Homo sapiens: one gene and its partners. The protein of the gene in region 3 interacts with the protein of the main gene of each other region in a biochemical or structural test. Each region holds a gene or a part of one and is shown on either strand. Other genes may lie near its edges. The genes, in order: IQSEC2, ARHGAP17, MAGI3, NCBP2L, PTPN18, PRR16 and KIF17.

What was found.
Region 1: the proteins of MAGI3 (region 3) and IQSEC2 interact in a test that uses a peptide from one of them, tested with the Homo sapiens proteins (one large-scale study listed by IntAct).
Region 2: the proteins of MAGI3 (region 3) and ARHGAP17 interact in a test that uses a peptide from one of them, tested with the Homo sapiens proteins (one large-scale study listed by IntAct).
Region 4: the proteins of MAGI3 (region 3) and NCBP2L interact in a test that uses a peptide from one of them, tested with the Homo sapiens proteins (one large-scale study listed by IntAct).
Region 5: the proteins of MAGI3 (region 3) and PTPN18 interact in a test that uses a peptide from one of them, tested with the Homo sapiens proteins (one large-scale study listed by IntAct).
Region 6: the proteins of MAGI3 (region 3) and PRR16 interact in a test that uses a peptide from one of them, tested with the Homo sapiens proteins (one large-scale study listed by IntAct).
Region 7: the proteins of MAGI3 (region 3) and KIF17 interact in a test that uses a peptide from one of them, tested with the Homo sapiens proteins (one large-scale study listed by IntAct).

Annotation. Positions count from the first base shown.
Region 1 is NC_000023.11:53,237,103-53,241,516, reverse strand, and holds part of IQSEC2 (IQ motif and SEC7 domain-containing protein 2), read left to right. Parts: intron 1-2,222; coding exon 2,223-2,322; intron 2,323-3,210; coding exon 3,211-3,372; intron 3,373-4,000; coding exon of another isoform or gene 4,001-4,020; exon of another isoform or gene 4,021-4,344; coding exon of another isoform or gene 4,345-4,352; exon of another isoform or gene 4,353-4,414. UniProt on the Homo sapiens protein: Is a guanine nucleotide exchange factor for the ARF GTP-binding proteins.
Region 2 is NC_000016.10:25,008,505-25,012,402, reverse strand, and holds part of ARHGAP17 (rho GTPase-activating protein 17), read left to right. Parts: intron 1-3,898. UniProt on the Homo sapiens protein: Rho GTPase-activating protein involved in the maintenance of tight junction by regulating the activity of CDC42, thereby playing a central role in apical polarity of epithelial cells.
Region 3 is NC_000001.11:113,638,128-113,642,541, forward strand, and holds part of MAGI3 (membrane-associated guanylate kinase, WW and PDZ domain-containing protein 3), read left to right. Parts: intron 1-3,783; coding exon 3,784-4,389; intron 4,390-4,414.
Region 4 is NC_000023.11:107,790,869-107,795,282, forward strand, and holds part of NCBP2L (nuclear cap-binding protein subunit 2-like), read left to right. Parts: intron 1-3,280; 5' UTR 3,281-3,352; coding exon 3,353-3,814; 3' UTR 3,815-4,414.
Region 5 is NC_000002.12:130,368,999-130,373,412, reverse strand, and holds part of PTPN18 (tyrosine-protein phosphatase non-receptor type 18), read right to left. Parts: intron 4,281-4,414; coding exon 4,212-4,280; intron 3,649-4,211; coding exon 3,586-3,648; intron 3,366-3,585; coding exon 3,223-3,365; intron 2,857-3,222; coding exon 2,790-2,856; intron 2,709-2,789; coding exon 2,631-2,708; intron 2,539-2,630; coding exon 2,449-2,538; intron 2,215-2,448; coding exon 2,126-2,214; intron 1,157-2,125; coding exon 930-1,156; intron 541-929; coding exon 466-540; intron 257-465; coding exon 189-256; 3' UTR 1-188. UniProt on the Homo sapiens protein: Differentially dephosphorylate autophosphorylated tyrosine kinases which are known to be overexpressed in tumor tissues.
Region 6 is NC_000005.10:120,470,463-120,474,876, reverse strand, and holds part of PRR16 (protein Largen), read right to left. Parts: intron 1-4,414. UniProt on the Homo sapiens protein: Regulator of cell size that promotes cell size increase independently of mTOR and Hippo signaling pathways. Acts by stimulating the translation of specific mRNAs, including those encoding proteins affecting mitochondrial functions.
Region 7 is NC_000001.11:20,711,508-20,715,007, reverse strand, and holds part of KIF17 (kinesin-like protein KIF17), read left to right. Parts: intron 1-1,452; coding exon 1,453-1,554; intron 1,555-3,500. UniProt on the Homo sapiens protein: Dendrite-specific motor protein which, in association with the Apba1-containing complex (LIN-10-LIN-2-LIN-7 complex), transports vesicles containing N-methyl-D-aspartate (NMDA) receptor subunit NR2B along microtubules.

The DNA of each region.
Region 1 (4,414 bases), on a different chromosome or scaffold from region 3:
GGAAATATCCCTGTCCACCTCAATAGCCCATAGGGTTGTGTGAAGAGGGGTGAACCTGCGACCCCCCAGGTCAGTCTGGAAATCTTCAGTAATCAAGATGCTTGAAGTGGGCTCGGCACTGTGGCTCACACCTATAGTCCCAGAACTTTGGGAGGCCAGGGCAGTTTGAATCACTTGAGCCCAGGAGTTTTGAGACCAGCTTGGGCAACATGTCGAAACCCTGTCTCCACAAAAAATACAAAAATTAGCCGGGCATGGTGGTGTGCACCTGTAGTCCCAGCTACTTGGGAGGCTGAGTCGGGAGGATCACTTGAGCCCAGGAGGCAGAGGTTGCAGTGTGCTGTGATCGCACCACTGCATTCCAACCTGGGCAACAGAGCCAGACCCTGCCTCAAAAATAAATAAATAAATAATAAAAACAAAATTTAAAAAAGATGCTTGGGCCAGGCACGGTGGCTCATGCCTGTAATCCCAGCACTTTGGGAGGCCGAGGTGGGTGGATCACCTGAGGTCAGGAGTTCAAGACCAGCCTGGCCAACATGGAGAAACCTCGTCTCTACTAAAAATATAAGAAATTAGCTGGGCGCAGTGGCGCATGCCTGTAGTCCCAGCTACTGGGGAGGCCAAGGCAGGAGAATCGCTTGAACCCAGGAGGCGGAGGTTGCAGTGAGCTGAGATCGCTCCATTGCACTCCAGCCTGGGCGACAAGTGAAACTCTGTCTCAAAAAAAAAAAAAAAAAAAGATGCTTGAAGTGATTCTTCAAACTGAGCTCATTACAAGTAGAGATGTTTGTCTTTTAGGGATGGGACTCTTAGGACTTTGCAGGTTGGAAGGGACTTTCAGGGTCCAGCTTCCTAGATGGCCCACTGGATGTATGACTGCAGGGACAGAAAGCCGCCTTCCTCTAAGGCAGCCAGTTGCCTTGTTAGGCAGCTCTGACTGCTAGAATTTGTCTCCCTGTGGGTTTCTTCCAGCCATCTGCACTCAACCCTTGGCATCACAAAGAACAAGTGTTGTACCTCTGCTCCAAGACAGCTCTCCAGGGATTTGAGGACTCTCTTGATCCTGTTCTCCCTGTGGTCTTCTCTCCTTTAGAGCAGGGTTTCTCAGTCTCATCACTGTTGACATTTGGGGCTGGATAATTCTTTGCGGGGACTGTCCTGTGCACTGTAGGATGTTTAGCAGCACCCTGGTCTCTACCTACTAGGTGCTAGTAGCAACCCTTCAACCAAAAATGTCTCCAGATGTTGCTCCGTGTCCTCTGGGGGCAATATCACCCCCAGTTGAGCATTGCTGCTTTAGCCGAAGTATTTCCATGCTCCCTCTGAGCCTTAGTTTCCTCCTCTGTGAAATGGAACTAACCCCTACTTCACAGGATTGTCATGAGGATGAAATGAAATAAGAGGTTATATGTGGAATCTGCCCTACCCCAGGGAGTACCTGGCCCACACAGTCAATGTGTAGACATCCCTCAGGTACTGAAACTGGTGTATGTCCAGCTCTATGCTAGGCACTGGGTATGCCAGGATGAATCAGACTTAGTCCCTGTTCTCAGGGAGCTCACAGCCCAAAGGACCTAAAAAAGTGCTTTGCGTCATTGTGCCATCCTGAAATCAAAACATTTCCTTTTACGAGCCACTTGCAGACCGCCTGAGGTGTTTGCAGCCTGTGTTAGTTGAGTCCAGAGTGCCCAAGTACTCGACAAAGATATTGGGTTGTTGAGAGGAAGACTTATTAACTCTCTACATGGGTTCAGCAGAGATTGCCATTAAGTGCAGGCTCTGGTAAGGCCTGGTGACAGAACCCGACAACCAGACTCCTGCCCTCCAGTCCAGCAGGGGGCGATCACACACTCAGAGGACTAGCATAGTGCCTGACAAGGGAAAGGCACTGAATCACCATTCTGGAGCTCAGAAAAGGGGTTTACAAATCTCTGTGGGATGTTGGAGCAGGCTTCCTGGAGGAAGCAGGATTCAGTTAGTTTCTGGAAATGTGGTAAATGTCTGTGGTGCGTGGTCATTACATCAGGAACTTGCGTTTTCTTCCATGTCTCCCATTCTGTCCCTCAAGCTTCCATTCTCCCCAGCTTGTGGGCATGTGTGTTTGTGTGTGTGTGTCTGTTAATGGGGTGGGAGGGGAGGGTGGTTACCAGAAATAGGTGCCACGTGGAAATCCCCCACCCAAAGCGCTGCCTCTTGTCTTTTTCCCACCCCTGCCAAAGGTCACCAAAATTTTCCAGAAGAAGAAGATCTTGGTGACGTACAGTTTCCGTCAGTCTTTCCCCCTCGTGGAAATGCACATGCAGCTCTTCCAGAATTCATGTGAGTCCCTTCTTGGATCCCAGCTCCTGAGAGTCTATGTCATGGCCCCCATGCTCACCCGTCATCTATACCAGCTCCAGTTTTCGGAGTCCCTTACAACCGGACTAAGGGTCTCCAAAGCACCTACTTGGTCCCAGGATGAGGGGCAGGCCAGGGTGGAGTATGACTTGGGTCTAGCCCCTGGTTAGCTCATGGTCTTGCAGAGAACCACAGTGCATGTGTTCTCTGGTGGGCCAAAGAGACGGTGATCATGCTGTGCTCTGAAGGATGAACCAGGAGGAGCTTTGTTGCGTGGTATTCCTGGCAGCAGAAGCAATGTGAGTTGAGGCAGAGGTGAGAAGGAAAGGGTTTCGAGAGAGCAGTGCATAGTTGTGTGCCTTTACATCCTGCAGTACAGGGAGTAAGAGGGCCACAGCTACCAGGAGTTTGAGGGCTTTGGGGCAAAGGGGAGCTGCTAAACATGCTCAAGCAGAGAAGAGGCATGATCAGAGTTAGACAGTAGAAAAATTATTTCATGGGCTAGGCATGGTGGCTCACACCTGTAATCCCAGCACTTTGGGAGGCCAAGGCAAGAGGATCGCTTGAGCCCAGGAATTCGAAACCAGCCTGGGCAACATAGTGAGACCCCATCTCTACTGAAAATAAAAAAAAATCTGCGCATGTGGTGCGTGCCCATGGTCCCAGCTACCCAGGAGGCTGAGGCAGAAGGATCACTTGAGCCCAGGAGTTCAAGGCTGCAGTGAGCCATGATGGCACCACTGCACTCCAGCCTGGGTGACAGAGAGATGTTGTCTCAGAAAAAAAAGAGCAGAAAAGAAAAATTATTTTATGTATGAGCCACCTTGCACCAGTCCCAACAGAGGTGCCCAGTCTCCCCTTTCTCCACAGATTACCAGTTTGGGATCAAGTTGCTGTCTGCAGTACCTGGTGGGGAGCGAAAAGTCCTCATCATCTTCAATGCCCCCAGCCTCCAGGACCGGCTGCGCTTTACATCCGACCTGCGCGAGTCCATTGCGGAGGTGCAGGAGATGGAGAAATACCGTGTGGAGTGTGAGTAGCCCAGCCATGTCTCCTCCCTGCTCTCCTGAAACAGTACCCTGCAGAAACCAAGAATCCTATCCTCAGAGAATCTCAGAGTTGAGGGTTAGCTTGTCCAACCTTCCCATCCTCATTTCAAGAATTCTTCAGCCTCTGCTTGAATACCTTCAGTGACAAGGGGCTCATTACCTCCCAACCCCATTATTATCCTGAACTCTAATTATGAGCCAACTATTCCTTCTAGTGAAAGGTATCAGGGAGAAGAATCAGAGTATTGGAGGTAGGACTATAGTTTTAGATCCCAGGTATACTACTCATTATCTGGGTGAACTGCAGCAAATTGCCTAACCTGCCAAGCCCCAGTTTCTTCCTATACGAAATTGGGGTAATGAAGTCTCCTTCACAGAGTCATGGAGATGAAATGAGACAAGGTAGCCGAAATGTCCCAACACATCTTAGGCATTCAAAAAATCCGTATTTCCTGTCCCACCCTCTCTCCTCCTCTGCCCACATATCAATTCCTGAGCTGAATCCCAGTGGGCTATCCTCTCAGCCCCCAGGGGCCACACCAAGTCATTTTGATCATATATATATAATGGAAAATAGTGATTACATCTCATTCCTCCCGATGCCCTCCAAGTTTTCTCTTCTCCAGGCTAAGCAGTCACAGTTAAGTAACATGGTGTTAAGGAGAAAGAGGCAGGCAGACAGAGACGAGGCGGCGGACAGCTCCTTGGTGAGGCCTTCACAGCTCCAGGGCCACTCTACTTCTCAGCGAGGCAGGGATAGAAATTTCAGTTCACCAGATCCTTTGAGACCCTGGGGAAATCCTGAGAGAGGGATTAGTAGCCCAAGACGAGGGGAGGCCAGTAGACACGTGTTTCTATGAGCTCCGTGGGGAGGTGGGGCTGTAGGAGGCCGGAAGCACCCAAGCTCTGGAATCAGGCAGACCTGCTTCCAGAATGTCGGCTCTGCCATTTCCAGCTGTATGACCCTGGGCAAGCTCTAAGACTTCTCGGATACTCAGTTTCTTCCTCTGCACAATGTGGATGCT
Region 2 (3,898 bases), on a different chromosome or scaffold from region 3:
AGATATTCTCCTCAGAAGGGAGACCTTTGAGTACTTTCACTGTAAGGTTCCAGGGGAGGGACTTGTAGAGAATTAGTAATGCCTGGAAGGAATGAGTTCGCATGATGCAGTTTGTTTACGATGGGTGGGTAAGTCTATTTGAGAAGACGGCCTGAAACTCACAGGGGCAAGGCTTATGAGGTGGTCTCATGGTGTGAGTGTCCCAAAGAAGAGAAGTAGGATGGTTCTTTTAGTCCACCTGCCTTTTGTTGATTCATGCATTCAACAGACACTTGTTGAGCCTACACTGTGTCCTGTTATCCAGGGTATTAAAGAATCAAAGGTGAATACGGGCATGGTTTCTGCCCTGAGGGAGCTCAGGAGATACGTGGAAGAGGTAGGCAGGCAAAAAATAATTATATACATGAGATAAGTGCTTAAGAGGGATGGCTAATGCACAGAGCAAAACCCAGCTGTCATTGGATTGAGGGAGGTAACAAAAGCTTCCCAGAGGAGAAAATCTGAGCACCTTTCTCTGCCTTCATTTTCAAGCCCTTATTTCAAATATCTCTTGTATTGATTAGGTCTCTTTTGGTTGTAAGAAAACCCAGTTCATAGCAAAGACGGGAATTGATTGGCTCATAAGTGACCAAAAGAGCCTCTAATAAGTAGTGTGGCTGCAGATTTGGCTTCTTCTGGGGGTTCCACTCTTTTTTTTTTTTTTTGAGACGGAGTCTGGCTCTGTCACCCAGGTTGGAGTGTAGTGGCGCGGCTCACTGCAGCCTCCACCTCCTAGGTTCAAGCAATTCTCCCGTCTCAGCCTCCCAAGTAGCTGGGACTACAGGCCTGTACCACCATGCCCGACTGATTTTTGTATTTTCAGTAGAGATGTGGTTTTGCCATGTTGGCCAGGCTGGTCTCAAACTCCTGCCCTCAGATGATCTGCCCACCTTGGCCTCCCAAAGTGCTGGGATTACAGGCATGAGCCACTGCGCCTGGCCTCGGTTCCACTCTTTAGGTAGGCACTGTGTCCACTGGGAGACTTCCACATCTTCCAAGTCTCAGAGGGAAAGAATACTCATCTCGCAGTCACTGTGGCCCGAGTCCCAGGATTGGCTCTGAATGCTTCTGGGTCACATGCCTTTCCCCAGAAATGGACTGGAGTCAGCGCACCCAAACCATATGGACTGAGAGTGGATGGTAATGGGTGGTAATCAGGCAAGAAATAAAGGTCATGGTGTGTCTTTTGTAGCCCTGCTAAAAAGAGAGATGTTTTGTTTCTTGAAAACCCTTAGATGCAGATCATCACCAATGGTGTTTTTGGGGAGATGATGTCTTGAGTAGAGGAAGGAGTACACTGGGATGAAGACCTTGAAGTTACAGAAGTATCAAGGAGAAAAAAAATTTGAGAGACAACTAGGAGAGCATAGTACTGAGGCTCTGATAGGGAGTGTCTCCTTGGGTGTTGATTTCTTCCCTGACTGAAGTTTCCCTTGGAGGTCTGAATGCTTTCACAGATAGTTGTTTTTTGAGAACCCAAGGTTGTAAACCCAAATGCCTAGAGGGCGAGGCCAGTAAAATGAATCAGTGCTTTGGGCCATGTGAAGGCCTCAGGGGACCTGGAGGACTGTGTCCCACCAAAGGGGCTGCTGTGGTAATGTAGGCCCAGTGTGGACCACCTGTGGAGTTTTCCTGAAATCTGCATTTTAACTAGCTGGCGTTTAATCCAAATTAAACTACGGGGACACTATATGCAGCTGAACAAAATATTTCTGTGGATCACCCAACTGCTTGTCTAGAAGGACTCAGAAATTGACAGTCCCTCTTTTTCATTTATTCCCCTGTACCTTACCCTGATGTTTTCAGTTCTTTGGATTTGTTGAAAAACAGCTCATCCTTTCTTTACTAAAATCTTGAAAAGGTCTGATAGTAACAGTCTATAACATTTCTATGGTGGTTTAGTTTACAAAGTGCTGTACTAAACCACCTGGCTTGGATTTCGTCTCCTGACAATGATAACTTCTCTCTGACAAAGATGGAAACCTGGCTGGGTGGGGTGGGGTGGCTCACGCCTGTAATCCTGACACTTTGAGAGCCCGAGGTAGGAGGATCACTTGAACCCAGGAATTTCAGACCAGCCTGAGCAACATGGTGAAACCCGGTCTTTACAAAAAATACAGAAAACTAGCCAGGAGTGGTGGTGTTTGCCTGTCTCAGCTGCTTGGGAGGCTGAGGTGGGAGGATCAACTGAGCCTGGAAAGTCGAGGCTGCAGTGAGCTGAGATCATGCCACTGCACTCCAGTCTGGGTGACAGAGCAAGACCCTGTCTCAAAAAAAAAAAGAAAAAAAAGAGGAAGAAACCTGACTTTCTAAGTTTGCACAGTTACTGAGTAGTGGCTGAGGCATGGCTTGGGTCCAGGGCCTCTTCCTGTGGTTCCCAAGTGCTTTTGAGTACAGGAACTGGGCTGCCTCTTCACCAGGGAAGGATTAGTGTTTATTAATGTTTATTAAACATCTTCTGTGCTTATGAAGCTGCTGGGCTTGGTGCTTTGCATACTTTTATTTCATTGCATTCTCATAGCCACCCTCTGAGGTGATGTTACTTATTTCTGATTTAATGATGAGGAAGCCAGAGATCAAAGAGGTCATCAAGCTCGCAAGAGACAGAGCCGTGGACCCAAACCCAGGTTTCTGATTCTGCAGCAGCTATAAATTCTGATCACAGAGATCTAATGACCTCTAGGAGTCTTCCACTCCTAGGAGGTATGTAGAATGGACCACTCACTAGGTAGTTGGATCCACTACCAGCAATGTGAATTCTCACACTGAGTCAAAATGTGTCTCTACCTACTGATCCCAGAACAGTCCCCTGCTGCCGAATTGAATGAATCTCATCTCTCTTCCCTGAGTCAGCCCTGCCTGTATTTGATGATCACAAACCTTATCCTTACGTTGCCAGCAGTAACATTCTGCATCCCTCACCCACTCCACTGTGTCCTTTTCCTCCCACTGATCTTCACTCTACCTTTCCTTCCCCCCACCCTTTTTTTTTTTTTTTTGACGGAGTCTCGCTCTGCCGCCCAGACTGGAGTGCAGTGGTACAATCTCGACTCACTGCAACCTCCACCTCCTGGGTTCAAGCGATTCTCCTTCCTCAGCCTCCCGAGTAGCTGGGCTTACAGGCATGAGCCACCAAGCCTGGCTAATTTTTGTATTTTTTAGTAGAGATGGAGTTTTGCCATGTTGGCCAGGCTGGTCTTGAACCCCTGACCTCAGGTGATCCACCCACCTTGGCCTCCCAAAGTGCTGGGGTTACAGGCGTGAGCCACCACGCCTGCCCACTCTGCCTTTTCTAGGGGAACTCTGAACAGTATTTCTGAGAAGGGATAGGTAATGTGTGCTTTGCTTCAATCTGAGTGGATTCCATCAACCTCTCCATAGAGCAGGGTGGAAAGAGGTCCTCTTGTCGTTGCAGCAGCTTCTCAATCTCATCTTTTATGGCCTTATTATGTAGTTTACATGTTAAGAAATCCAGAAGTATTTATAGTTGAGTGAAAATCCATTCTTTACTGGGGGGAAGAAATGAACTCTAAAACCATAAAAATGATGAACCAGTAGAAAATTTTCATCTGTAAATTTGAACCATAAAAGGATATGTTCATTTAGCATCATTTTTATATGTGTAAGCGGCATGTTACGCTATTATGGAATTGCCTTTGTAGCAGAGTGGACGAGGCAAAACCTTCCAAGTTTGATTATGGCCTAGGGCGCTGCAGTCAGTACGTGCACCGTGCATTTTTGTCAGACCACAGGATGTTTCACCTTTATCATTCTATTTCAGTTTCTCAAGTGTAGGTAGATGCTGTAGTAACTAGTGAAGTACAAATCCATGTAAAAATGTTAAACTCTCATCTGTTCG
Region 3 (4,414 bases):
CGTCTAAATTTTTTTCAAAGTTTTTAACTTCTTTGCCTTTGATTTGAATTTCTTCCTGTAGCTCGGAGTAGTTTGATCGTCTGAAGCCTTCTTCTCTCAACTCGTCAAAGTCATTCTCCATCCAGCTTTGTTCCGTTGCTGGTGAGGAACTGCGTTCCTTTGGAAGAGGAGAGGCGCTCTGCTTTTTAGAGTTTCCAGTTTTTCTGCTCTGTTCTTTCCCCCTCTTTGTGGTTTTATCTTCTTTTGTTCTTTGATGATGGTGATGTACAGATGGGTTTTTGGTGTGGATGTCCTTTCTGTTTGTTAGTTTTCCTTCTAACAGACAGGACCCTCAGCTGCAAGTCTGTTGGAGTTTGCTAGAGGTCCACTCCCTACCCTGTTTGCCCGGGTACCAGCAGCGGTAGCTGCACAGCAGCGGATTTTCGTGAACCGTGAATGCTGCTGTCTGATCGTTCCTCTGGAAGTTTTTTCTCAGAGGAGTACCCGGTCATGTGAGGTGTCAGTCTGCCCCTACTGGGGGGTGCCTCCCAGTTAGGCTGCTCAGGGGTCAGGGGTCAGGGACCCACTTGAGGAGGCAGTCTGCCTGTTCTCAGATCTCCAGCTGCGTGCTAGGAGAACCACTGCTCTCCTCAAAGCTGTCAGACAGGGACATTTAAGTCTGCAGAGGTTACTGCTGTCTTTTTGTTTGTCTGTGCCCCGCCCCCAGAGGTGGAGCCTACAGAGGCAGGCAGGCCTCCTTGAGCTGTGGTGGGCTCCACCCAGTTCGAGCTTCCCGGCTGCTTTGTTTACCTAAGCAAGCCTGGGCAATGGCGGGCGCCCCTCCCCCAGCCTCACTGCCGCCTTGCAGTTTGATCTCAGACTGCTGTGCTAGCAATCAGTGAGACTCCGTGGGCGTAGGACCCTCCGAGCCAGGTGCGGCATATAATCTCCTGGTGCGCCGTTTTTTAAGCCCATCAGAAAAGCGCAGTATTCGGGTGGGAGTGACCCAATTTTCCAGGTGCCGTCTGTCACCCCTTTCTTTGACTAGGAAAGGGAACTCCCTGACCCCTTGCACTTCCCGAGTGAGGCAATGCCTCGCCCTGCTTCAGCTCGCACACGGTGCGCTGCACCCACTATCCTGCACCCACTGTCTGGCACTCCCTAGTGAGATGAACCCGGTACCTCAGATGGAAATGCAGAAATCACCCATCTTCTGCGTCGCTCACGCTGGGAACTGTAGACCGGAGCTGTTCCTATTCGGCCATCTCGGCTCCCACCTGTTTAGTTTTTTTGTTTGTTTGTTCGTTTGTTTGAGACCAAATCTCACTCTTGTCATCCAGGCTGGAGTGCGATGGCAGAATCTCGGCTCATTGCAACCTCCGCCTCCTGCGTTCAAGTGATTCTCCTGCCTCAGCTTCCTAAGTACCTGGGATTACAGGCGCACGCCACCATGCCTGGCTAATTTTTTTTCTTTTTTTGAGATGGAGTTTTACTCTTGTTGCCCAGGCTGGAGTGCAGTGCTGCGACCTCGGCTTACTGCAACCTCTGCCTCCTGGGTTCAAGCAATTCTCCTGCCTCAGCCTCCTGAGTAGCTGGGATTATAGCACATACCACCACACCCAGCTAATTTTTTGTATTTTTAGTGGAGACAGGGTTTCATCATGTTGGCCAGGCTGGTCTTGAACTCCTGACCTCAGGTGATCCACCTGCCTCAGCCTCCCAAAGTGCGGGGATTACAGGCGTGAGCCACCGCGTCTGGCCTAATTTTTTTGTATTTTAGTAGAGATGGGGTTTCGCCATGTTAGCCAGGCTGGTGTCGAATTCCTGACCTCAGGTGTACTGGGATTACAGGCATGAGCCGCTGCGCCTGGCCTGAGCCACCACGCCCAGCCAGTGGCTTCTTAAACTCAAGAAATAAGGTGGTATTTAAAGATAGACTGACCCTGTCAAAAAGTGGACAAAGGATATGAACAGATACTTCTCAAAAAAAGACAATTATGTGGCTAACAAGCATATGAAAAAAAGCTCAACATCGCTGATTATTAAAGAAATGCAAATCAAAATGACAGTGAGATATCATCTTACGCCAGTCAGAATGGTGATTATTAAAAAATCAAGAAACAATAGATGCTGGCAAGGCTGTGGAGAAACAGGAACGCTTTTACACTATTGGTGGGAGTATAAATTAGTTCAATTAATGTGGAAGACAGTGTAGCAATTCCTTAAGGATCTTGAACCAGAAATACCATTTGATCCAGCAATCCCATTACTGGATATATACCCAAAGGAATATAAATCATTCTACTATAAAGACACATGCACACGTATGTTTATTGCAGCACTATTTACAATAGCAAAGACAGGAACCAACCCAAATGCCCATCAATGATAGATTGCATAAGGAAAATGTGGTATATATACACTATGGAATACTATGCAGCCATAAAAAGGAATGAGATCATGTCCTTTGCAGGGACATAGATGAAGCTGGAAGCCATCATCCTCAGTAAACTAACACAGAAACGGAAAACCAAACGCTGCATGTTCTTATAAGTGGGAGTTGAACAATGAGAACACATGGACACAGGGCCGTGAACAACAAACACCAGGGCCAGTCGGGGGTTGGGGGACGAGGAGAGGGAGAGCATTAGGACAAATAACTAATGCATGTGGGGCTTAAAACCTAGATGACGGGTTGATAGGTGTAGCAAACCACCATGGCACACTTATACCTATGTAACAAATCTACATATTCTGCACTTGCATCCTGGAACTTAAAGTAAAATTTAAATATATATATATTTATATATGATATATTTTATATATCATATATATAAATATATATAATATTAAATATATATATGATATATAATATATATACACTATATATGATATATATAATATATATGATATATAATATATATGATATATATAATATATATGATATATTATATATGATATATATAATATATATGAGATATATATTATATATATGATATATAAATATATATGAGATATATATTATATATATGATATATAAATATATATGAGATATATATAAATCTATATATATATCAGGGGTGGAGGAGGATTTCTGGCTATAGGGGCTATAGGAACTTGACAGGATTCTTGCTGAATGCAGGCTGAGGTGATCAGGTAATCACCTGGAGAATGGTGGGGAATGAGGACTTAGATCATATATCAAGAGTGGGTGATTCTGGCTAAACCAACTTAGCAGGATTCCTGCTAAAGCTGGGCTCTGGAGGACATGCCAAGGATGAGGCCTACTGAAAAAAGAGCTCAGAGGAACCTGTCTAGAGTTTGGTTAAGGACAGCGTCTTTTTCAGTGTATGTATATATACATACATACAGATATATAAATAAAATTAATTTATTCAAAAAATATAATACAGTTTGTACAAGTAGTCAGTGGAGTTATTTGCTTCTGTACTAAATACCTACTGCAATGTGCCTAGCTTTGCATGGATACTTAGATATGACTCAGAGGGTATACTAACAATGATAATATAAATTATCAGGGTTTTTTTTTTAATGATTCACTTGAGCTTGAAGTCAAAATTCTTTGCTACTGAAATAAGTAGGATTTTAGACATTTATACATACATTTTAGAGAGGAGTTAGAAAAGGGAGAAGGTCTGTGTTAGAAATCTATCTTTTCAGCAGTTAATAGAGGTTTCCAAAATTCAAATTTAGTTGCTAAATTGTAGTTATTTTTGCCCCTCTAGCAAAAAAATTAACTTATTTGTTGATTTTAATATTTTTAACATGATTATGTTTTTCCAGGCGATGTTATTGTAGACATCAATGGCAACTGTGTCCTCGGTCACACTCATGCAGATGTTGTCCAGATGTTTCAATTGGTACCTGTCAATCAGTATGTAAACCTCACTTTATGTCGTGGTTATCCACTTCCTGATGACAGTGAAGATCCTGTTGTGGACATTGTTGCTGCTACCCCTGTCATCAATGGACAGTCATTAACCAAGGGAGAGACTTGCATGAATCCTCAGGATTTTAAGCCAGGAGCAATGGTTCTGGAGCAGAATGGAAAATCGGGACACACTTTGACTGGTGATGGTCTCAATGGACCATCAGATGCAAGTGAGCAGAGAGTATCCATGGCATCGTCAGGCAGCTCCCAGCCTGAACTAGTGACTATCCCTTTGATTAAGGGCCCTAAAGGGTTTGGGTTTGCAATTGCTGACAGCCCTACTGGACAGAAGGTGAAAATGATACTGGATAGTCAGTGGTGTCAAGGCCTTCAGAAAGGAGATATAATTAAGGAAATATACCATCAAAATGTGCAGAATTTAACACATCTCCAAGTGGTAGAGGTGCTAAAGCAGTTTCCAGTAGGTGCTGATGTACCATTGCTTATCTTAAGAGGAGGTAAGTAAAAGCACAACATAGAAAA
Region 4 (4,414 bases), on a different chromosome or scaffold from region 3:
CTTTAGAAAGTTGTTTTCCCCTCCTCATCCTCCTCTGTAGTTTTGTACTCCCTTCTTTGTGCTACCTCTGGGCCTACTGTGTGCTCCTGTGATTAGAATAATTACATTGCATTGCAATTTGTATGTTAAGTTGTCCATCTCCCCAGATTGTGAGCTACCTGAGGGAAAGGGCTGCATCTTACTTTTTATTGTTTCCCCAGAATTTAACATAGTGCTCTATAAATGTTGATTGAATGAATGGAGAAACAAGTGAAGAGAAGAATAAAGTAGAGGATGCCCCACATTATAAAACAAAGCTCCCATGCCAGTTATCTTTCCCAATATCCATCAATCTGTCCTTTTGCCACGTGTTGAGCTTGAAAGTAATACTTTACATTTATACTTTTTTTTTTTTCTGAGACAGGGTCTCACTCTGTCACCCAGGCTGGAGTGCAATGGCACAATTATGGCTCACTTCAGCCTCGATCTCCTGGGCTCTAGATCCTCCTACCTCAGCCTTCCAAGTAGCTGGGACTATAGTCACATGCCACCACGCCATGCTAATATTTGTAATCTGTTGTAAAGATGAGGTTTCACCATGTTGCCCAGGCTGGTCTTGAACTCCTGGGATTAAGCAATCCACCTGCCTCGGCCTCCCAAAGTGCTGGGATTGCAGGCGTGAGCCACTGCACCCGGCCTTACATTTATTCTTAAGTACTATCCATCAATTATCTTGTCAATTTGGGCTCAGCATCATGTAAGACTGCCCAGATCATTTCAAAGTCCCTCTTATTTTTGTGTTATGTGTAGATTTGATATGTATTTGTATATCCTATTTTGAATCACTTGATCAGAATATTGATACAATACCTATTGCTTATTGAACACCTACAGTGTGTCAAACACTGTGCTGGGTGTTTTTACATATGACATTGTCACAGTATTTGTTGCAAGATAGGTATTTTGCTCTCCAGTTTACAGATGAGAAGATTGAAATCAGTATTGTTAAGTGCCCTGCCTAGGGTCATATTGCTAGTAAATGGTGAAGTTGAGATTTGAACCAAGGTCTTTTGACTTCAAAATTCATGCTTGAGTCATAACACTACATTGATTCAAAGGGGCATCTCCACTGCTTCACTACTGGGTGCCTAGCTCAAGGCAGCCCATTGTCTTTGGACTGCTCTGACCATTTTAAAAGCTCTTGTTTGTAGTGAGCCAAGTTATAAATGAGCCAAACAAGACATGGCCAATAACAGAGCCTTTGGCTCTCTGCTAGAACCTTCCTTCCAGTCTGACACCAAACCATGTGTTCGCTTCTTTGGCTATAGTTGTTCAACTAGTTATAGGCTCATCTCAACAAATGCCTGAAGCATCCAGCTTATATTTTGCCATCTCATCTACAAGGAAATTATGGCAAACTTTGTCCAATGCCTGGATGAAATGAAATCCACTATAGCTATCACATTCTCTGGTAGCTTATCTAGTAACCAGATCAAAAAAAAAAAAAAAGGAAATGAAGTCTAGGAGGGATATTTGTTTTTTAACGGGGCAATTTGTCAATGACTTAAAGTAATGAGTTTCCAGTGGTATACTTTCAGACATCCTTGACAGGCTGTCAGGAAGATGATTTTTGGCCAGTGGGCTTCCTACTTCTCTTCAAATGACATCTAAATAGGGACTCCCATTTTCATTGCTTTGAATTGCACAGCACTGTTGTTTACATCTGGTTTTATTTAATCTTCCATTTCAGTTTTCTGGGCTTTTATTTTTTCTTTGTGTTCTGCCCTTGCACATGTTCCCTCTGCCTGGTTCATTCCCTAAACTCCTACACCCCCCAGCCCTGCAACACACACATATACATACCTTCCTTGTCCTTTGAGAATCAGTGCATGCAGTCCCTTCTCCAGAAGCCTTCTCTGTTGTCCCCAGGCTGAGGTAACTGCTTCTCCTCTTGGGTGTTGTAGTGGCAAGTGAGCACAGTGCCTGTCACAAAGTAGATCCCCAATAAATGTTAACTCCCTTCTCCCCTTCCTCCATGAATATCTCTAAAATAGTATTGATTACACCATATTGTATTTTCATGTTTACTTGTTTGCCTTCATCACTCAATTATGAGCTCATTCATTCATCCAGTCATTAACAAATATTTATTGTGTGTCTAAGGTGTACAAGGCATTGTTCATGTAGGTACTGGGGACACAGTGATTTCTGAAAATTGTATTTTCACTGTGTCTTTTCATTGTTGTACTTATAGCACCTGTCATAGTGTCTGGCAAGTAGAGTGCTTATTAAATGTTTGTTAAGGGAATGCACTTCCTTAGCAGAGTTTCTCAAAGTGTAATCTTTGGACCATTTGCATCTGGATCATTGAGGGGTGTAGGTTAAAATGTTAATTCTTGGGTCCCTCTCCAAACCTACTGAATCAGAATATCTTAAGAGTGGGCTGCAAGAATCTGTATTTTAATCTCGTTTTGCGGTGTTTCTATCATGCTAAAATTTGGGAACCTCTGCGAAACAGAATAGAAATAGGGAGACCCAGTGCCTCCCTATATATGCCTCCCTATAATAACATTGAAAAGTGTAGCTAAAACCGACTAAATCGTGTTTAATGCCTCCGAATGCTGCAGTAAATTTTAGTAAAAGAGAAAAAGGAATTAATTAAAATTGTCTAGAAAGGTTAATTACTATTTACCTTTTGAACAAGTGGAATTATTGCCAATAAAATCTAATCTTAATTTAGGTCAAATTTATGATACCAGAGAGTTTTCATTTCTAAAGTGCTACTTGTATATTTGATGGTATATAGGGACCCATTGTGTAACCCAACAATACAATATATTGATTCCATGTTATAGACTTGAATTGCAAATTAAGAAAGAGTATGTCCAAACTGTACTTGTGCTTTAACATTGATTATATATGTGATTTATCTGATGCTTAGTCCTTAATCAGAATTGTTAGTGCTCATTCTCTGTGCAAATTTGATCCATTTAACTGTTTTATGCCATATTTTCCAAGAACATGCTGTTATTAAAAGTGCTCTTTGGTAATAGATCAGGCATATAAGATCTAAGTCTCAACCAAAGACAGCACAACTTCCCTTTCAGGAAGACTTGACAAATTGGATTTTATGACCATGTTTTGGGGATTGGAGCTGTCTATTTTTAGTGTGCCTTGACATGATCCTTATGGTCAGGAGCTGAAGTGTTCTTGTATCTGAACACAAATATGTTAAATATTCACAGGTTTATACTTCTGTTTCCCTCCTTTTGACTTCCCTCTTTTTTTCAACTCAACTTAGGTTTTCAGTGGTGGTGTCACTGCTGCCAAGCTGGACCGAAAACGGCCATCGGCATGCTGCCCAACCAGCACCATGTCCAAAGACCTGAAAATTCTATGTAAAGACCCTGCTTTGGAGCTGAGCTGCTACCGGGACCATCAGTTCAGTGGCCGTAAATTTCAGCAGGAAAAATTACTGAAGGAAAGCTCCACATTGAATATGGGGAATCTTTCCTTTTATACAACCGAAGAGAAAATACATGAACTCTTTAGTAGATCTGATATCAGGAATATCTTTATGGGCCTGGATAAAATAAAGAAAACAGCATGTGGTTTTTGCTTTGTAGAATGCCATAACAGAGCTGATGCTGAAAATGCCATGCGGTTTCTAACTGGGACCTGCCTAGATGAATGGATTATCTGCACTGATTGGGATGTCGGTTTTAGAGAGGGTCAACAGTATGGTCGCGGTAAATCTGGGGGTCAGGTAAGGGATGAGTTTCGTGAAGATTTTCATTCTGGTAGAGGAGGCTTTGGAAGACAGACTCAGATCTAGAACAATCCATAGAGAAAAAGTTTTAACTCTAACCCCTTGAAAAGTGTGTTATAGACCAACCTCAAGTCTGCAAATAGCCAATTCCAAGTTTAAATTACCTTACTTGTTGATGTATTTTTTTCTCTGAAAATTTGTTAAATAGCAGAAACAAAAAAAATCCATTTGTTTTTGTCTGAATTTTGAAGATGCTTTTCAGATTACCAGTTTGACTGTTAGGTGGTCCAAAGTGAAGTGTTCTTCGGGAACAAATTAGGTATGTAAGATCAGAGTCAACCAAAGCACAACTTCCCTTTTAAGAAGATTTCTGTTGGATTCTATGGCCATGTTCCTGCAGCCCAAAATTATAATTTTTTTTAGAGCTTGCATAAAATACAGTCAAATAAGTGGAAATTTTAAAAAGTTATCAAGAGAAACACAAGCACTATTATTTGAAACCATAGAAAAGTCTGGAAGAATTTGTAATAAAAACAAAAATCCTCCTGCCCCACCTCTTCCTATCCTACGCCTATTCCCTGGACGATAACGCTTAATTATTTTTATTAGTTTTTGGTTTGTTTGTTTCTTGGTAGTTTCCTCCATATCTCCAAATAACATGACTAC
Region 5 (4,414 bases), on a different chromosome or scaffold from region 3:
AGCTACCTCCTCCAGCCTCAAGCCTTGAATGCTACAGTCATTGGGGCAAAGCCCCCACATTTCCCACCCTGAGAAACTTTAACTTTGATCCAGGCCCACTGTTTCCATTCTGCGCACGGCGCTCAGCAGCACCGGGGCATCAGCAGTCCGAGCTCACAAGAGGCAACAGGCAGGAACTGGCGTTAGACTTACACCCGGGTCCACTCAGCAGGCGGGTCCCGGGGACCCTTCGGCCTCCCAATGCGCAGGTTGAAACCTGGGAGAAGAAGGGTGCCGTGGGTCTCATGGAGAAGCTGAGGTGTGTGGAAGCTGGCAGACATGAAGAAGGCCATCCCCCCGCCTCCAGGTCCTCCTGGTTCACTGCAGCCACATCCACAGGACTAAGCTCCATGCCCCATCAACCCCAGACTCCTGGGTTCACTCAAAGCAGCAAAGTCCCAGCAACCCAGGCTCTACCTGACTTACCTAGCCCACCGGTCTGAGCTCCACCCGCCACGTCCTCGTAGGCGCCAGATCCGGCAGGACTTTGGTCAGCAGGAACTGAGGGCAGCAGACCCCCCACGGGTCAGCTCCGGAAGCCCCAGGGAGTCCCAAGACCCCACCCCTAGCGGGGACGCTTCCCCGGAGGCCCGAAGGGGAGAGCCGAGGGCGCCGGGCGGGAGAAGGCACACACCCCGGACGTGGCCTCCAGCCTTTGGGCGCGGCCAAGACAAGTATTGCCAGGAACCCTGCCCCTGGACCGCGACTGCGACCGCCAGGGGGCGCTTCCGGGGCGTGGCCAGGGACGCCTGGACATCAGCGTCGGGGCGTGGCCAGGCTAGCGGCTGGGGTCCCCGCGGCCGCCAGGGCCTGACGGACCACTGCAGGATGGTTCCGCCCTGCGGATCACAGCAGGATGATGCCCTGAGAAGGAGCAAGCCTCGACTCACCGCGGCCAGGCAGCGTCCCCCTCGCGTCCTCCGCGTGCGCCCCGGGTCGCTGGGCGCGCGGCGTCACCTTGCTGTAGAGCGGCGCCTCCTCCGCGCTGCGCGCCCCCGTCCCCGTCCCCGTCCCCGTCTGCGTCCCACTCCCGGCGCCCGCTGGAGCCCCGCGCTTCTGCACCACCGCGTAGGTGTCAGCCATGGCGTGGCCCGGGGACCCGGGCACAGAGATGCTCCTGCAGGCAGGGAGGGCCGGGAGGAAGTGAAACGGCGGCGCTGGGCAGGGCGGGAGTGGGGAGGCTGCTCAGCGCGCAAACCACGGGCTTCCTTCCCGCCGAGGCGGTGCGCTAGATGGGAGGGAGGGCTCCTTGGGTTGGAGGCCTCGCTTCTGTGTCCCTAGCGCCCTGCAAGTTAGGGGGATGAAGGAGGAACGGGGTCAGCCTGGAGGGTAATTTGGGGCAGAGTGTTGGTTTGAGGGGTGGTCATTTCTGTGTCAACGTCTACTGAACAAAAGAATGCGGAAGTGGCATAGAAGACAGGAAGGGATGGCCGCAAGGACAAGGGCCTTAAGTCTCCGCTGCGAAGGCGGCTCAATCCCATGTCCGCAGCACCCAACGTGCGGCCTGACAAGAAGGCGGCGTCTAGAATTATTTGCTGAATTTTTTTTGTTGTTTTTTTGAGACAGGATCTCGCTCTGTCGCCCAGGCTGGACTGCCGTGGTGCGATCTCGGCTTACTGCAACCTCCACCTCCCGGGCTCAAGCGACTCTCCTGCCTCAGCCTCCGGAGTAGCTGGGATTACAGGCTCTCACCAGCACGCCTGGCTAATTTTTGTATTTTTAGTAGAGACAGGGTTTCACCATGTTAACCAGGCTGGTCTCCAGCTGGGCTCAAGTGATCCGCCCTCCTTGGCCTCCCGAAGTGCTGGGATTACAGGGGTGAGCCACCTGAATTAAGGTTTGATTAGAGGATCCAGGAAAGGCCTAACTCAGAAGGCAGGGCAAGCCTTAGAGGCAGAGGCAAGGGGTAAATGAATCATCTTGGGATAATTGAATCATCTTGGGGTGGGTTCCCAGAGCTCAATTCGAAGAAAGGGCCAGCGAACACTTGGCGAAGTGAACAAGGAACGGACTGGTGTTCCAAGGATGAAGAAGGGGTTAGCCTGAGAAATTGGGCAGGGAAGAATCCGGGGATGGAGCCGGGTACCTGAGGACCCCTCCTGGTGGGCGGGGTATGGCGAGAAGTGCCTGGGGAGTCCGGAGGAAGAGGGCATCGTCGTAGAGTGGGGCACAATTCTGAAGAAAAACAGGAGGGGAGGCTCCTGAGGGAGGAAGCTGGCCAGGCCTCTCAAGGGGCTCTGGGAGAAAGCTTAAGATGGGAGAGCCTGATAAGGATGCCTGGAGGAGGGCACAGGTGGATGTCATAGTCAGTGCCTGCTCCCAGTAGTCCCGGGGGCTGGACCCTGCTCGGGGTCCTGGTCTCTGAGGGTGCTGATGGTGGACAGGAGAGTGGGAAAGGAGCCTCTGTACCTCTTTGATGTTCTGGTAGTGGGGGCTGGCATTCTGGAGTGTGGAGCAGAACATCTGAGCCACCGTGTGGTACAGGAACCTGTACTGCTCCTGTTGGGGTGAGGGACCATCAAGAAGGGAAGGCAGGGGCAAATGACAGCAGTGGGCCACTGTCCCTGAAGATTAGGAGACCCAGGGTTCACCTCTGTCTGCACGGCCGCAGGCCGCTGCTTCCTCATCTTAAGGACCACATCAAAGAGACTGAAGTCAGGTGGGATCATCTGGGGCAGACAGACAAGGCACTTGAGCAGGACACGTGGTCATGGGCAGCACACTGCACACACAGGATGCCTGTATCGTACCTGGGTCAGGAGCAGCTGCCTCACATAATCCACGGTGCACAGGACGCCTGTTCGCCCACAACCCGCACTGACAAGAGAATCAGAGTGTGCCTGGTCAGGTCCTGACCACAACCCCTTTTAGATGGGGCATTTGGGGATGGGGGTGAGGGTCCTGATGGATCCCCTGCAGAGCCTCTTGATTCCCAGAATCTTCAGATTATATCTGAACAAGGAAAACCTTTTTAATCACTTACATTTTGTTGAGCAAGAGCTGTGTGCTTATTCCCCAGCTGAGTCTGTGCTGAACAAGTGCTCACAATTACAGTCCATGGAGGGTGAGCAAGGGTTCTCAAAATAGGCACTCAGACTACAAGACTAGCCCCATGCCCTGTACTCCCCTCCATGCTCTGTCCCCTCTGCCTCACCAGACCCTCCTGAAGCCCATTTCCAAAACCTGCAGTGGACACAGAGGGGTTCAGGGCCAGATCCCTGGAGGCGACGGGCTTCCTCCACCATGGCGAGCATGTGGTCAGGACTGCTGGGGACCCCACGGTCTGGCCAGGACATATACTGTAGCTGGTACACAGAACGGGACTCCTGAAACACAGAAAAAGATGAGCAAAAGACTTAGGAAAAAAAAGAAAAAAGCATTAATTGGCCATCTACTATACACCAGGCCCACTTCTAGGCATCTTCCATTTATGTCTACCAGACAATAACTGAGGAAGTGGGTACTAGTATGATGCCCATTTTTACAGGAGAGGAAACCTCTCCCCTTTCAGGAGCCCCTTTACCTCCTCCTCCCCTGTCACAGTACCTTCTGGAATGTGACCTTGAGGGTCCTGAGCATGATGTCCTCATTCAGCCACTTCTCCTTTATCTGAGTAAGGGGGGTGGGGCAAGTAAGAAGAGGGAGGAGAACAAAGATCATAGGTACCAGAAGACATTTATAGAAAGCAAAGCATTCCTGATTAAAAAATCAAATACAGAAAACATTTTAAAAATTCATATAGCCCAAACTTTCCCCAAAGCTTTCATTAAGGAAACATTTGACACAGGAGCAAAAGAGGAACTATTATAAAAACACAAGCCCTTTTGCAATGAAAAGAGATGTCTTTTGTTCTAAAATGAAACTTTTATTGCATTTATTAAGTACTAACTGTATGTATGACTTGAGAGAGTTCCCCAAGCTCTTTTGAAATGGTAAGAGAAGTAAGAATTTCAACAACCTAACCAGGCACATTTACATGACAGAGATTAACTGATTGTAGCCAAAATAAAAATGCAAAGGCTATCCCTATAGTAAGTTCTAACTATTTGCAGGCTAACACCAGAGGGTTTCCTGCAGTATGAGTGGACTGTGGGTTAAATCATTCAACCTTTTAGGCCCAACCCAAAGCCTTTCCACCCTGGGAATCTTCCTTGAAAACTCCCACAGCTCACCAGAGTGATGCAGAAAAGCCCAGTCTGCAGTGGCTCCTGCTCCTGGGCCCAGTACCGCTCACACCTTTTCTGCAAAAGGTAAGGGAGAAAAGGCAGGGAGTGAGAAGAGGGAGTCAGCTTCAGAGCTAGCTCAATCATGCCACAAGACACCCCAGGTGCTCGTGGTGGAAGCACAGGCAGCTATACTTATAACCTATAACAGA
Region 6 (4,414 bases), on a different chromosome or scaffold from region 3:
AAACTAACTGGCAAGAAGACAAGCAGCTCAGCCTCAACTGCTCCCTTCATTCTTTCTGAGTTTCTCCTTTTTTTCTCCCAAATCCTAAAACACACATATTTACCCAAATCCCTTAAAAAATACCAATTTAACTTTTATTTCATTGTGAAAACAAAATGGAAAGCAAAAAAATGGAAGTGGTGGATGGAAATTGGAAGGCATATTTTTAAAGTAGGTTGAATTAAGGGAAAAAGAATGAGGTAAATGTAAAGAAAAATACAGATAATGGGTTTTTTTTTTAAAAAAAAGATAGCAAATACAAGACACAAAAGAGACATGAAGTCTGAATGTTTGATGGCTAAGCATAAAGAAAGAAAAAGGTAGGTAGCAAAAACAATATTAAGTAATATGGAATAAGATGGAAGAGCAAGAGCAGTAGTTCTCAAAGTAGTCCTTTGGGTTCCTAGTTCTACTATTGCAAAGTAGGAAGAGGACATGTGGCATCATCTAGAAACATTTTCCATTGTCACATTAACATTTTGGTTGCTACTGGCATCTAGTTGTAGATGCTGCCAACCATCCTACAATGCACAGGACAATCCCCCCAACAAAGAATTATCCACTCAATATGTCAATAGTGCAGAGTTTGAGAAACCCTGAGCCAGTGATTAAAGGTAAAAAGATGAAAGTATAGCAGATTTAGTCACCTCCCTGCTCAGAAGTCCCATTTTACTCTAAGGAAGAATCAAAATCCTTAGACATGTCCCCCATATCTATCTGACCTTATCACTGCTACTCTTGCCCTGCTCGTCCACTCCTGCCACCCTGGGCCCTTGTTCTGCTGCAAATGCATGGGAAACTTGTCCACTATAAGGCCCTTGGGCTGCTATTCCCTACTTGGGAAAATGCTCCCCTAGATTTCCTTACTGCTTGCTCCTTCACCTTCAAGCATTTTCCCCAATGCCACCATGCCACTTTCTCAGTGAGGCTTATTCTGAACAATCCTATTTAAAATTGCACTTCCTCCTCATCACTATTCATCCCATTATAATCTTCTATTACTTCATAAGATAAATCACCTTCTAATATTTGATGTAAACTAGTGTTTATTTTACTGAGCTATCTTCTCCCTACCCTCCCCATCCACTATGTAAACTCCATGAAGGAATTTTGTCTGTTTTGTTCCCCACTATATCCCTAGAAACTAGAACAGTGCCTGGTGTACAGTAGGTGTTAAACACTACTTGTTGAATAAATGAATAAAGGGGCTCAGACAAATTCAAATAATAACACTAATGACAGACACACATACAATGCTTGCTTTATGCATAGGAACCATTCTAAACGTTCTACAAAGAACTCATTTAATCTTCATAACCAACCTATACTGCACATAACACTGTCACTATCGCCACACTATGGAGAAAATGAAAACAGAGAGAAATTAAATAATGTGCTCAATATTGCACAGCAGAGCAATTTGAAAAAAAGCAGACTGGCTTCAGAGTTTGTGCTCTCACCCTTCTATACTATGCCACCTTACTGAGCAACACAGACTAAAAATTCTCCTATTCTTTAAAACAAAAGATAACCCCAAATATTTATCAAAAACATTGAGCTATGCAATAAAGAGGCAATCAAATTTATACTTCATTCTATATATAATTGGATAAACATAAATATACCTCTGATATTTGGGCTTTAAAATTACAAAGTTATGTCAATTCATAATAGCCTACAGTGTTATCACTGTCATCAAAAGTAAACAGAAAATAGTTACTTCAAGGGCAGATCACTAAGCTTATTCATATATGCATCTTTTACTTTCTTCAGCACAGTGACTTACACATATCAAGAATTCAATATGTCTTTCATAATTCATGTTAATGTGACATAAGAAAAAAATAAAACAAATAAAAATGCTGATCTGCAATCAGTTTTAAGAAGAGAATATGCTTAATTTACAATGAGTTCTGAAAACTTTTTGTCCATCTATTTACTGATATACTATGGCAAACATCATAAGAAACGACAAAATGAAAGAGTTAACTTTCAGACACACAAGCATTCTACAGCTTTTGCAAAGTCGTGAATTATAAATATACCACCTATTTTCACACTGACATCACATCCTAAGAGAAAGAAACTGTTGATATGCCACTCATTTTTTTCCCCTACATAAAAAACATCAAACCACAGCCATCAGTATTTCTTTTTTTTCTTTTTGTAGGGCCAGGACTTTTAATTCTGAAAATTATGGAGCCAAACCTCAAACAATTAGCTAAAATTTCTAAAAAATAAAATGGCAATCAACCACTTGTTTTGTCTCTTTACCTGAGTCATTCCCACCCACCCAAGATTCCCTGAACATGTGCAGGAACCACGTTTGTGTGAGCTTTTGTTCCAGAAGAAATAATCCCAACTTTTTTTCCTTTTTTCAAAGGGGTTTGTGATATGGGGGGAGGGAGACTATTAAGAACCACTGATGCTAGAAGGCAATTGATTTGACTGATATTGTTTAACCCAGTATTTTTCTCTCATATAAACACACAGTTTGAAATCTTGAGATAAGGTGATATTATGAAAGGGGAAAATGCACACCAATGTATCTGTTAACATTTGTGTGGTACTACAAAAAGAACCTGTCAGAAATCATCAAATTTTCTTTTTCCAGACAAGGATAACATATGTTATCTGTAGTTGAAAATCTATTTATAGTGTCCCAAACATCATGATAACTGTGTCATTGAGCATAAGTATGTAATTTGCCTAACTTCAATTATTCTACAAGTAAACATTTATCTCAAACACCAATCTGAAGCAGCATTTGCAAAGTAGAAAGAGAGAAAACAAAGATGATGAATATAAATTCAGTCCTAACAGTGTTAATATTTCTTGCCTGAAAGTGAGGTCTGGGAGTTTAAATTCTTTGGAATCCTCATGTCTTTCCATTCTAAATAAATAAATAGCTTATCCCATATAAGCAAGACAACATTTGTCCTGAGTTGACAGACTACCTTGTGAGTCTACTTTGATTTGGATATTAGATATGTCTTTATTTTCTCATTTCAGTTAATGCTACTTTCTGGTTCTTGTTTAAAGATGAATTTCTGCTGACTTTGGGTTCCCAGTTCCTGTGGGAAATTTAATTCAGAGTAATTATCCTAATGAACTAACTTTTAATACAATAAAAACATTTCTATTCATAACATACTGGAAAAGAAAACAAACAATTTTAGAATAAGGCCATTTCTTATAACCCTTATATGTGGGAGAGAGGAGGTGGTTTATAATCGATAGCACTAAAGTTAATACAAGAAATCGAATTATAATATATACATATGACATCATTAGCCAGTTCAATAATGTTGTTCCTAGTAAAGAATTCAACAAGATTCTCTAATTCATCAGTCATAGCAGAAAGCAAGAGAACTGTCAAACCTCAAACATCTCAGAAAACTTAAGGATAGTGCCTCTCTTCTAAGGTAATTTGATAGCAACAAAAGAGAATAATATATTCCAAATTATTTGTATTCTTTGAAACAATTATATACAATGCTAAGTATCAACGAGCTTCCATATTAGTTGTTCCTTTATTTTCTCAGCCAGAATATTAAAAATCTATGTAATATTCTTATCAACATTTTTGTTGAATAAGTTAAAGGTAATTAATCACAGCACATCTTTATTTGCAAATTTTAAATTGCAAGGTCTAATTTATTCACTATTAATTTTGTCTCAATACTGTTTTCTGCAACCTACAAAAATAATGACTGTTACCATGAAGATAATAAACTACACAGCAAGCCTTAATGAAATAATGAAATGGTTTATTAGCTTCACTCCCAATTTAAGAAACAGTGTCCATACATACGCTGCTGCTGCAAGCAAAAATTTGTGAAAACTCCCTGGAAGACAGTTTGGCAATATGAATTGAGAATTTTAAAGCTTTTAGATCCTTGACTTCTAAGAAAATGTTAAAAAAAAAATAGGAAACGTGAAAGAGCTTGGCGGTTAATGCTGTTCTTTGACACCAAGCTACCTGGCAATGAAGCTTCACTTCTCCACTTACAAGACAAGTGAGTTGGGCAAATGACTTACTATCTCGGACCTCAGATTTCTTATGTGTAAAATGGGCAATATCAGTAACTTCCTCATCTACCTGTTTTGAGAATTAGATAATTTAATATAAATAAATGCGCTGAGAAGAGTACCTGGCAGAGAGTAAGACCTCTGTTAGATATTCATATTGCCAAAACTGCTCTTTCTAGTGACGTTTAATAACCATGAAAAGCTGGAAATAAATAGAATACCCAATATTAAGGGAAGTATGAAGTAACTTATAGCAAATCTGTGTAATAGTTACGATCTATATCATTCAAGAAAGTAGAAAATGTCATTGCTTATAATTTATAACTTTGTATAACTTCATCTA
Region 7 (3,500 bases), about 93 Mb from region 3:
AATTACCTGGCGACCATTTGTGGCAGTGCACGGGGAATGGCGGATGGGGACAACCCTGATCAGCTGCAGAACCCACTGTGCCACTCTCAGGACTCATCATGGTGGCCACAGCAACATGTAGGGCCTTGGAGAGCTGCCAGGGACCAGCCCAGAGCCAGTGCTTGGCCCAGGCCTTCCCTGTGGCCTCAGGTGTTTTTTTTTTTTTTTTTTTGAGACGGAGTCTTGCTCTGTCACCCAGGCTGGAGTACAATGGCATGACCTTGGCTCACTGCAACCTCTGCCTCCCAGATTCAAGCAATTCTCCTGCCTCAGCTTCCCGAGTAGCTGGGATTACAGGCGCCCATCACCACACCTGGCTAATTTTTGTACTTTTAGTAGAGATGGAGTTTCGCCATGTTGGCCAGGTTGGTCTTGAACTCCTGGTCTCAGGTGATTCATTGGCCTCGGCCTCCCAAAGTGTTGGGATTACAGGTGTCAGCCACCGCACTTTTTCTTTGTTTGTTTTTGTTTTTGTTTTTGAGACGGAGTCTTGCTCTTTCGCCCAGGCTGGAGTGCAATGGCGCGATCTTGGCTCACTGCAACCTCTGCCTCCCGGGTTCGAGCAATTCTCATGCCTCAGCCTCCTGAGTAGCTGGGATTACAGGTGTCCACCACCATGCGCAGCTAATTTTTTTTTTTTTTGAGACGGAGTCTCGCTCTGTTGTCCAGGCTGGAGTGCAGTGGCGTGATCTCAGCTCACTGCAAGCTCCGCCTCCTGGGTTCACGCCATTCTCCTGCCTCAGCCTCCTGAGTAGCTGGGACTACAGGCACCCACCACCATGCCTGGCTAATTTTTTGTATTTTTAGTAGCGACAGGGTTTCACCGTGTTAGCCAGGATGATCTCGATCTCCTGACCTTGTGATGTGCCTGCCTTGGCCTCCCAAAGTGCTGGGATTGCAGGCGTGAGCCACCGCGCTTGGCCTAGCTAATTTTTGTATTTTTAGTAGAGACGGGGGTTTCACCTTGTTGGTCAGGCTGGTCTCGAACTCCTGACCTCAGGTGATCCAACCACCTAGGCCTCCGAAAGTGCTGGGATTACAGGCATGAGCAGCGCCCCGCCCTGTTTTTTTTGTTTTGTTTTGTTTGTTTTTTGTTTGTTTTTGTTTTTGTTTTTAACCTGAATAACGAGGAGGCCTCTGTTTCCTTTCCCATGAGGCTTGTAGACAGAGCATTAGACAGCAATATGAAGATTATGCAACTCAAAGAGGCCTGAGCGCCCACCAAGCTGGAGACAGGAGAGAGCTTGCCAGGAAGGCCAGCAGGGCGGGTTGGGTTGGAGACTCCTCTTGCCCCGATGTCCCTTCTCCTCCCATGATGTCCTGGTGGCAGAGGGCCCAGGCCCCAGGGTCAGACCTGGCAGCAGGTGGACTTCGAGCTCTGAGGTCTAGGTTCTTTCTGTGTACTCCCTGCAGTGTGCAGAGAACACTAAGTTCCTGGTCCGGGCCTCCTACCTGGAGATCTACAATGAAGATGTCCGGGACCTCCTTGGGGCTGACACCAAGCAGAAGCTGGAGGTGGGTGCAGACCCATTGTGGGCAGGTGGGGCTGGTAGGGGGGAGGTTGGCATTGGTGCTGCTCCCTCAGAAATATGGGAAAGTGTCCTGAGGGTGCCGGCACTGGGAGGCTAGAGTCGGGACTTTTTTTTTTTTTTTTAATTAAAAAAAACTTTTTTAGGCAGGTGCAGTGGCTCTTGCCCGTAATCCTAACACTTTGGGAGGCCAAGGTGGGCAGATCACTTGAGGTCAGGAGTTCGAAACCAGCCTGGCCAACATGGTGAAAACCCATCTCTACTAAAAATACAAAAACTAGCTGGGCGTGGTGGTGCATGCCTACAGTCCCAGCTACTGGGGAGGCTAAGGCAGGAGAATCACTTGAACCCAGGAGGTAGAGGTTGCAGTGAGCTGAGATTGTGCCACTGCACTCCAGCCTGGGCAACACAGTGAGACTCCGTCTCAAAATATATATATCTATATTATATATAGTATCTATATATAGATAATATATATATAATATAGATAATATAGATAATATTATAGATAATATAGATATATTATATATATAATATAGATAATATTATCTATATTATATATAGATAATATCTATAATATAGATAATATTATCTATATCTATAATATAGATAATATCTATATTATATATATAGATATTATCTATTTATATATAGATATTATCTATATTATATATAGATATAATATAATTTTATATATATAATATATATAGATATAATATAATTTTATATATAGATAATATTATCTATATTATATATAGATAATATTATCTATATTATATATAGATAATATTATCTATATTATATATATAGATATTATCTATATTATATATATATAGATATATATAGATATATATATAGATAATATTATCTATATATATAATATAGATAATATCTATAATATAGATATATATATGACAAGGTCTCGCTGCGTTGCCCAAGCTGGCTTCGAACTCCTGGCCTTGAGCCTTCCACCTCAGCGCCCCCGGTAGCTGGGACTACAGGCATGCACCACCACATGCACCCAGCCACTTGGTGTTTTTTATGCAGGAGCCTCCAGCCTCCCACCTAGAGTTTTTCTACTGCGTTCCCTCTCCTAGTGCAGCTGAATCATAGCTCAGCCCCCAGACAGGGAAGCAGAGACAGGAGGCAACAGAGGGTGTTGCTCCCACATGTCAGCCCCAGAAGGCCAGCCTGTGGAGTTAGGGCACTCTGGCCCCCTGCAAACCTTCTGCTAACCCGCACTGGAGCAGCAGGGAGCCCTCCTCCCCTTCGTCACTACCCTGGACCCTAGAAAGGCCTCAGTTACCCGGGCCTAGAGGGGCCGAAGGCTGGCAGCTGCTCACACTTGCTGCAGCTGAGCCATGGGTCTCAGGCCTATTGAACCAGCTGCCTTGGGGGCTGCAGTGACAGATGCGCTTGCTGAAACACACTCCAGAGGTCACCGGGCTTTAGACACGCTCCCTCGTGGAGGATGTGCAGATGGCTCTCATGTAAACCTCCTGGCAGTCCAGGAGGAGGCACCGTTCCTATTCCTTGTAACAACAGATGAGGAAACTGAGGCTCCATGTGCCTAAGTAAGACCAACCCAAGGACACACAGTCAGTAAAGAGTGGCGATGGGATTTGAACCCGGGGGCTCCACAGCACACACTCTTAACCCGTGCTTAACACAGGCCCGATCGTGGTTGTAATCAGAGGTTATTACATCACCTAAGGCCAGCAAGAGGTTTGGGGAAGCAGAGTTCTATCCCCTCCCCCTAGCCACTGTAAACTACCATCACAGAACCCAGCCCTGAACTGCCTGATCTGGTGAGGCCTGAGGGGGCCTCTCCAGCGGGTTCTTCCCACCCATGTCCAGGCAAAGTGTCAAGGGCTCCCCTCCCCGTGGCAGCGATGGACACATTCCTGCCATGCTCCCCTCTCTCATCCTTGC